Linked DNA regions of Homo sapiens: all the other regions are linked to region 1. The links come from fine-mapping of genetic effects on gene expression. A gene starts in region 1. Each other region holds a variant in brackets. All regions are shown on one strand. Distances are between the middles of the regions.

Region 1 (2,757 bases):
CTGCTTAAACTCTGGAAAACAGTACCAGTCAAAGTGGTGCTGAAACCTTCCTTTAAGACAAACTAAAACGATGTTAAAAAGGTTACACGACCTTACTATTTCAAGTACTGGTATAAAACCACTTTCTCTGCACAGGTTCTAAAATTTCACAGTCGTTTGTCTTAAAGTCTGTCGGCTTGTGAGGGGGCTGGTACATATTTTAATATTTAAATTTCAAAAAATAAGCAATGAGACTGTGTTTGAAGTTCAAGGGTTTTCACTAGTTCTCAAGCTACAAACCCTGTAATATAGCCAAAAGAAAACGTACAGAAAGAATCTTTCACGAAAAGTGTCAGGTCTCCAAAACCCCGACATCTGCTAAAACCAGGATTGCGGGGGGGATGAGAAGCTCGTGAAGTTCAAAAACACACCAACCCCGCGGGAACACGAAACCTCCACTCGCGAAGACGCGACGCTTCCGCCGCATCCCCGCGCAGGTGAAGACTCGGCCCTTCAGCCCCGCGTGTGCGGCAGCATGATATTCAGAGTGCGCCGGCGTCCAGCGCGAGCGCATCCTACGACAACCCCGTCTCCCGCTGGGGTCCGCAGCCCGCGGACTCCGGGGTCCCCCCGCCCAAATGCGGCGGCGCGACCGCTTCGTCCCGCGGCCAGGGCGCTCCGCGTCTGCTCCGGCCACCCCAGCCCACCCGCGCAGCGCGGACGCCAACGCATCCCACTCCCGCTGGGCGCCAGGGGCGCGGGGTTCAGTGGGGCCGCGGCCCCCGCACCCGGCTGGGATCCGAGGGCGGGGTGGTCGCGGCTGACGTGGGCTTTGCGGCTCCGGGCCAGAGAGCAGCCTGGGGGACGGTGGGTCTCTTTCCGGCTTGGGAGGGAACGGGGGCGCCCGCGCGGGAGGACGGCAGGCGAGGGACGGCGGCCGCGGGCGATTCAGATCCGGGGCGGGCGGGTACACGTCGGAGCGCGGCGGCCACACGCTCGCCCGGGGAGCGCCACTGTGCGTCCCAGCCGGCGCCTCCTCCCGCTTGCCCGCGCCGGCTGGAGAAAGGAAGGACGGCGACCTTCGCGTCCGGTCCGCGCCACCAGCCCGCCTCGGCGCCGAGCGCGGGCCACACCCAGCGCTCCGGGAGGCGGCGGAGGCTGGGCGGCCCGGGCTGCGGAATGCTCGGCCCAGCCGAGTCTCCGTCCCGGCCGCGCAGGCCCCTCCGCGTCCGCCCGCGCCCTGCATCCCCAGCCGGCCCGGCGTGGAGGGGGTCCTGGGCTTACCTCTGTGTCGAGCGCCGGCTCCTCCGTCCCGGGCCGGAGCCGGGGCCCGGGGGCGCGGTCGCCAGGGGAGGCGCCGCGGCGGTGGCGGCCCCTGCGGCTCGGAGGGCGGGCCGAGCGGGAGCCGCTGCCTGGGCCGCGCGCCGTCCGGAGCTCGCCCCGCGCTGCCGGCGCTTGCAGCGGAGGGCGCAGCCAGCTCGGCCCCCGGACTGGATTCCTTCACTGACACAACTCCGGCTCGGCCGCCCCACGCAGGGACACTCCCGCCCCTCGCAGGCTGCCCCCGCCCGCCGACCCGCCCGCCTTCCCCTCGGTGTCACTCACCAGGAGCACACACCCCAGCCGGCGCCCCTCGCTCCCGCTCGCAAACACAGCGCTGCTCACGCCTCTCTCGGGTTTTGTATCCGCTCACACGCACGTTCTGACACAGATCTCGTCCCTCCACACGCCCTCCCTAGCTCCTTTCCCACCCCACTTTCTAGAAGAATCCCAGTACAGCTTCCGCACTTTGCTTGCTTGCTCCAGACCGACTTCCTCGCCTTTCCCCAAACCTCCACTTCACCGAAACTCCCCTTGTTAATGAAAGATTTTGTCACAATCCGCACGTGTTGCAAGAGAATCATCTTCTCCTACCCGAGAAAATGAACTTTGCTCCCTCAGCACTGTCTGCAAATACGAGATGTTTTTCCTTTTAGAAGGTAGTAATGCTTTCTGGAGAGGATCCAAGCTCAAAATGTAAGCAAAGATAGCCCATTCGAAAATGACCTGAAAAATCAGGCGCGGAAAAAGTGCTGGAGCTCGGGTCAGCCCTTGGAAACCCGACCAACCCGGGGTGTTCCGCCGCCTCCTCTGCGCTGCGGGTCTGCACACTGGGCTCCAAACGTGTGTGTAATAACCAAGTTACACATGGGCATCGTGGGCTTCAGCCGTGGGTTTCTGCCTGGGAGTACAGTAGTCGGGAGAGTAAAAGCAGTTTCTCAATCATTATTCATGATGGAAGCACTTTAGATAACACTCTTCTTCCAGAGGCAGTAGAGTGAAATGCAGGCAGCTCTCCAATTCAGGTTTTTATTTATTTATTTATTTATTTATTTATTTAGAAGGGTGACTTCTTAGCTTCCTTTTTTTTTTTTTTTTTTGGCAATACCAATAACTGTTTCTGAGTGGCTCCTTGGCTGTCAAGCTCCTTACAAATATCAGACCAGAGTTTGTTATGCTTCTCGAGCTCCAGACTCTAATGGGCCTCCGAGGGCACTGCAGAATCGTACATAATCCGATGTTCAGGAATTCATAATTTGAAATAAAATACAAACACCTTTCGGATAAAGTTCAAATCTGCTAACATAATGTGGCCCTGTTGACAACGCACTGCTGAAATAAAGAGAGGAGCTAAAACGAAAGGAATTCATTTTCTTATGTGACTTGGAGTGGTTCTTGCTACCTTATAGTCGCCTTGGATTGGTGTGTGGATAATATAATTTATTTAACAGACATTAG
Region 2 (2,757 bases), 170 kb before region 1:
TTTTGTAACATTAACTCTCTAAAGACAATCAATGGACTGACATCACTGCTACAACACAGGTTGCTAACTGAGCCTCTGATCTTCAGCCACATCTTGATTTTCCTAATAATGAGTAAATACTGCCTGGCTAAAATGCTGCAAAGTCTTGATGAGAGAAAGCATCAACAGATCAAGCAAAGCCATGAAAATTATGAAGCAAGCTAGAGCTGATTATTAGAATTAGTAAAAATGATTAAGAGAGGATGACACAACCATACGGGATTTGTATATTCTGATTGACACTCTTTTGGCAGCGAATTGGGTCAGCACCTCGGGCAGGGAACCAAAACTGAGTGAAAACTGCTCTTTTTCCTCCTAGCTCAGGCCACCAACGTCACAGCCGGGACTGAGAGAACTGCTGCATCTGTGGAAACTTCTATTCTCGTGGGGCAGAGATTGCACTGTGAAACCCTACCGACACTACCCCGGAAGGGCCTGGCCTCCGAGGTGTCTGCAGCGTGCTGCCTTCGCCGGGGCTTTTCAGAATGGGCCGGGGCCTCGGGGGTCTTCATCCCCAAGGAAGCCTCTTGATTTTTGGCACCGCCTTTGTTTTTGGGCCGGAAGCCGTTGTGCGGCTGTCTTCTGTGTTCGTGGCGGCTGTTGCCCTTTCCCAGTGGCTCGGCTTCATTCCCACTGCCCTGCGACTTGGCAGGCCCATTTAGCCTGTTGTTATGATACTGTGGATTAAATCTCCGTCTTTGGTTAGAAGATCCATTCTACCAAAAAAGAAAAGAGATAAGTATCAGATGCCAGCAAGCCACTGATGACACCAGTAGACATCAGGAAAACCAAATCTCTAAGCCACAGGTAAGCTTTTTTTTTTTTTTTTTTTTTTTATACACCAGAAGAATCAGAAAACATGAAGATGAGGTCAGGCAGATAAAATTATTAATCCTAAAAGAATAGTGGACTGTTTTGTAAATGGAACTGGAAGAAAATGATATTGAAAGAGAGGTTACAGAAGTGTAAGACAGACAATTCAAAAACTGGGTCAAATAAAATTCATAAAGATGCTTAAACTATAGCAGAATAAAACAGAAGCCAGGGGCAGAGTAATGATGATCCTCTACTATGGAGATTTCTGAGACATTCTGTAGAGAC[T/C]GAGAGGGACAGGAGGCACAGAAATTGTACACAGAAAAAGGGCAGGGTCCCTGGCCAAGACCCACTCTCAAGCCCAAAGTGAGAACTTTACATTCCTGTTTTCCTGCTCAAATATTGCCTTTTCCAAAACCACCCCTGGCCTACCCCACCCCGTATCCTGTACCCATAAAAATCCCAGGCTCCACTGGCACAGAGCAGAGAAGAGGAGAAGCAGCTGCACGTCGGAGACTGCAGTCTGAGTCGGAGAGCAGCAGCTTGACTTTAGCGGGACTGCTTGATGGCAGTACTTCAGGGGAAGAATACGTTCCCACTCCATCCCCATTTTCCAGCTCTCTCCCTCCTGCTGAGAGCCACTTTCAATGGCAATAAAATCCCCCGCGTTTACTATCCTTCAATTTGTTCATATGACCTGATTTTTCATGGATGCTGGACAAGAGCTCAGGATACAGAAAAGTGTCACATTGACCCTCTGCCTTCATGAAAAAGTAGAAGGTCTATTGAGCTGTTAAATACTTAAGCCGTCCTTGGACTGCAAAGCTAAAAGAGCATTGTAACGCATGCCCTCTGGGGCTCCAGGGGTCATGGGTACTACCCTAGGCACTGCTGTGGGACTGCATGGAGTTTTGATCCTGCCGGTGGCCAAAAGTGCTTGCTCTAGCTCCTGCACCTGCTCACCTGCATGCTCTCCCTCCCCCGAGGGGTTCAGAGCTTCAGGCTGAGAAAGTGAGGCACCCCTGTTGCAAGGCCTGTGAAGGGGTCAAGGAAAATTTCCTGTTCAAAACCATGCATAGGAATTCTAATTACGTAAGTGAAGAAAAAGTAAAATTCTGTAACTTTTCTTCTCTAAAGTAGCTTTTCTAATTTATTCCAAAACAAATATCTTTATAGTTCAGAAATATTATCTTGGACAAATATAGGGGTGAAGTGTATCTGGCAGGTCTTGGTGGCATGCAGAAATAAGGTGTATTTTCACAGAGGTAATTCATTGTTTTTCTAAACTTTCTGCAGTTATAAGCAAAGAAAATTTGAAGCCTCTATTAAAAAATCATTCCTTCAACACATCACTGACCAGGAACGTAAATGGATGAGCAGTAAGGACGCAATGGATTAAGCTCCTTTACAAGGGAAAGATTTCTGAACTCCTCAAGGTCAGTAATAGCCAACACTCATTGAGTGCTTACCATGCACTGAATGGGGTTTCTCACCATGCACTACCTCATTTAACATCAGAATCACCCTTTAAGTTAGTTGCTATTATGTGCTTCGTTTTATAGATGAGGATAAGGAGTTTCAGGGACTTGCCCAAGGTCTATCTACAGTTGGGAAATGGTGGAGCTATTCCCGCTTTATATACTATCTCCTGACAAGACTCTTAAGTTGTAACATAAACATAAACCTTTTTTGAAAATCAAACCTCTTAAGAAAACATGAAATTTTATGAGTTACAAATATATAAGGTTCTTCATTTGTGCACTGTGACTGGATGGTATAGGTTTAGGGCAGACCAACCCCCAATAATTCAGAGCCTAGAGCAAGAGTACAAATGTAGGTCCATACATCTGTTAAAGGAAAATAAATCTTGGGGCCCCCAAATCACTAAGCTGAAGGGAAAAGTCA
Region 3 (2,757 bases), 150 kb before region 1:
TGAAGAACTCAATCTGTAACAACAGCCAGAGTTAGATGTTAAAGATTTAAAACCAGGCCACATTCCATCTTCCATGCATTTGCCTCAGGGAGACTAGAGTGAGAGGAATTGCCGGGGACCATCTGATCCCAGACAATTTTGCTGCAGAACCTTCTTGTGGGGAAAGTACTTCAGCTGGAGCTTAACTCATCATTCGCCAAGCCAACAATTGCAGAATGGGAGCATGGGGAGGGAGGCAGGCCCAGCAGGAGGCGCATGCAGTAGAAAGAGAAGGTGGGAACTGCTGGAGAGAAAGGATGCTATGAATGCTAATGAATATTTCAGCCTTCCTGGCCTCTACCAAATAGCATAAAGCATGCCAAAGACTGATAAGCCCTACAGCCAGGCTTCCCTGCATAAAGAATTTCCATTTCTTTCACTAAAAAGAAAAGAGTGGTATAAAAACATCTCCCTCCACTGTGGGCTCTGCCGCTTCTTAATGCAAAGGAATAAGAACTGTGACCAACGGTTCTAACATCCCCTGAGAGGGATGTCAGCTGGGCTGATAGCCTAGTAGTGCCCACTGACCACCACGTGGGCCTTGAGCTGGCAAGCTACAGTTGCCCCGTACTAGCTAGCACTGAGCATCTGTGTCCCTTCCCTTAAATTTTGCCCACTAGTTGCAAGGCAGGAAAACTTCCTTTATACATTTAAGGCCTAATGTACTGTTCCCATGAGTACCATTTCTGGTCCAACTCCCCAAGTATTACCAGCAATTATTGGGCCCAGGGCAAAGCTAGTCAGGGGTTTCAGCTCACCAATTTCTCAATTGCAATTTCTCAATTTCTTTGTTGCAGCTGTCAACAAAGATGCTTCCCTGGCTTGACAGCCACAAATGCAGAAAGACCGTACGGTTCTTTATTCCCAGGGTCAGGAGGCCTGGCAGCCCTAACTGTAAAGGGCACTCACGTTCTTGCACACTGCCAATTCCCGGCTCTTCCTTGCTGTTCTGCTCCCCATCCTGTCCTCTCTCCTGCACCCTCTATGCTGGTTACTGGTGTCATCTCTCACCCAGTGTCCATGGCTCCTCTTCCTTCACTTCCCACATGGTTACATCCTTGGAAGTCTACCCCAGAAATGTCTGTCTGTCCCATGCACCTCTCCACTTCCACTGACTCTTATTTAACCCTGAGCACATTACCCAGTCCTTGGCTATTTGTTGTTGTTTATTGTTACACTGCTGGAATTCCCGGGTCTGTCACCTTCCACTCTGTATATATTTGCATTTAGGTTTTATAACAACCTGAATTCTTTTCAAAACTGAAAAATAATAATAGATTTTTTTTTTT[TTA/A]AATGCAGCACTGGTGACAAATTGGTCCTTCTAAAGATTTATTGGGTTTAACAGTGTTATTTGGTAAACATATAAAACCCTGCATACATGTCCACAGCATGTAGACTGGGGTTAGCACATAACCCTTTGAAAGGCTGCCTACTAATCACGCTCATCCGGGAAATAGAGTGGGGGTGCCTCAAGCATGAACCACACTCAACATACAAAGCAAAGTCAAAATCCATCTGACTGTCAATGAACATCAATGACTACACTCAATTGCCAATCAGGCTGACATTTTATTTCTACTACTTTTATGAGAGGCAATACAATGTGTTAATATTGTTTAGTCTGCATATTTTATGTTGGAATCATACAATGATTTGAAATCATGGTTAATAAATTGTTCATCATACTGTCTGAGGTGCATTTCTGGGATGAGACACACAGATTTAGTATAAGGACTAACTCTCAACATTAGTAATATTTTGGAGTTCTTCAAAAAGGACATAATTAATTAAAAAATATACAGGGATTTCTTTTTCTTATTGGAATTTTTTAAATGACAGAATAGCATAATCCCATAGTATGGAAATCCCACAACATTAAATGTTCAACTGAAAAATCTATATTCCTCTGTTTAGAAATTGTACATATGACTTTGATGAACAATAGAAATTTTTATCTTTGCTAATTACTTATTAGTTCAGTTTCTTTTCATGGAGGTCACTATTCAGGGAAAGTAACTTGACTGTATTTCAGTGTCTTTGACTATAAAAATGCTGACTCCCCCGCTTCCCCTTTTAAAGTTACATCTGCCGGGCGTGGTGGCTCATGCCTATAATCCCAGCACTTTGGGAGGGCGAGGCAGGCAGATCACCTCAGGTCAGGAGTTCAAGACCAGCCTGGCCAACATGGTGAAACCCCATCTCTACTAAAAAACTGGAAAATATTAGAAAGCAGGATAAAATGAAACAAATTTCAAAATAAAACAAAATAAAGCAAAATGCCCCTTTGTCTCAAGCACAAAATAGAGCCAATCACTCTGATCACTGTTGTATTTCCTTCCAAAAAAAGAAAAGAAAAAAGAAAACGGTGGGGGCAAGGGGAAGGGCATTTATGTAGATGCCATCATGGTTGCTGAACATAAATAACAGGAACAGAAACTGGAAGAAACTGATATAGTACAAGAAGTGCCAGAAATGCTGGCCCACATTCAACCCAAGGCAGCCAGGCCTAGCCTCCTCTGCTCCTGGCCTCCAGGCAGGCTCTCATGTGAAAAGGGGAGGGGAGGGGCTCTTCTTGTTTTTGGCCTAGAAGGCTCTTCCCCACAATCACAGGTGTTGTTATTGCCCATGGTAAGGCCGTACCCTAGTCCAGGCTTCCAAAATGGAGCAGGAATACAATATTAAATTTTATGTACTCACTTGTTATTCTAAGTAGGCTTT

Direction of the effects. Positions count from the first base shown, and alleles are read on the strand shown. Sizes are in standard deviations (SD) of each study's normalised expression. Not every link is listed here.
As copies of TTA replace A in region 3, the expression in lymphoblastoid cells of the gene that starts at base 1,493 in region 1 goes up (small effect, 0.32 SD a copy in GEUVADIS).

What was found.
Region 2: its variant is fine-mapped to the expression of SPATS2L in whole blood (INTERVAL, PIP 0.98).
Region 3: its variant is fine-mapped to the expression of SPATS2L in lymphoblastoid cells (GEUVADIS, PIP 0.93).

Annotation. Positions count from the first base shown.
Region 1 is chr2:200,305,429-200,308,185 of GRCh38, reverse strand. It overlaps SPATS2L (spermatogenesis associated serine rich 2 like), which reads right to left and starts at 1,493. Exons shown (of 13, transcript NM_001100423.2): 1 at 1,264-1,493. RefSeq lists silencers at 529-858, 879-1,608 and an enhancer at 2,019-2,118.
Region 2 is chr2:200,475,634-200,478,390 of GRCh38, reverse strand. SPATS2L (spermatogenesis associated serine rich 2 like) reads right to left here. Exons shown (of 13, transcript NM_001100423.2): 13 at 1-755. The coding sequence ends at 360. LOC101927741 (a long non-coding RNA gene) reads left to right here and starts at 418. Exons shown (of 7, transcript XR_007088047.1): 1 at 418-846; 2 at 2,149-2,288. The variant T/C (reference allele first, on the strand shown) is at 1,141.
Region 3 is chr2:200,451,466-200,454,222 of GRCh38, reverse strand. All of the region lies in intron 8 of SPATS2L (spermatogenesis associated serine rich 2 like), which reads right to left. All of the region lies in intron 2 of LOC101927741 (a long non-coding RNA gene), which reads left to right. Among named protein-coding and RNA genes, the nearest start is that of KCTD18, 57 kb to the left of the region's middle. The variant TTA/A (reference allele first, on the strand shown) is at 1,329.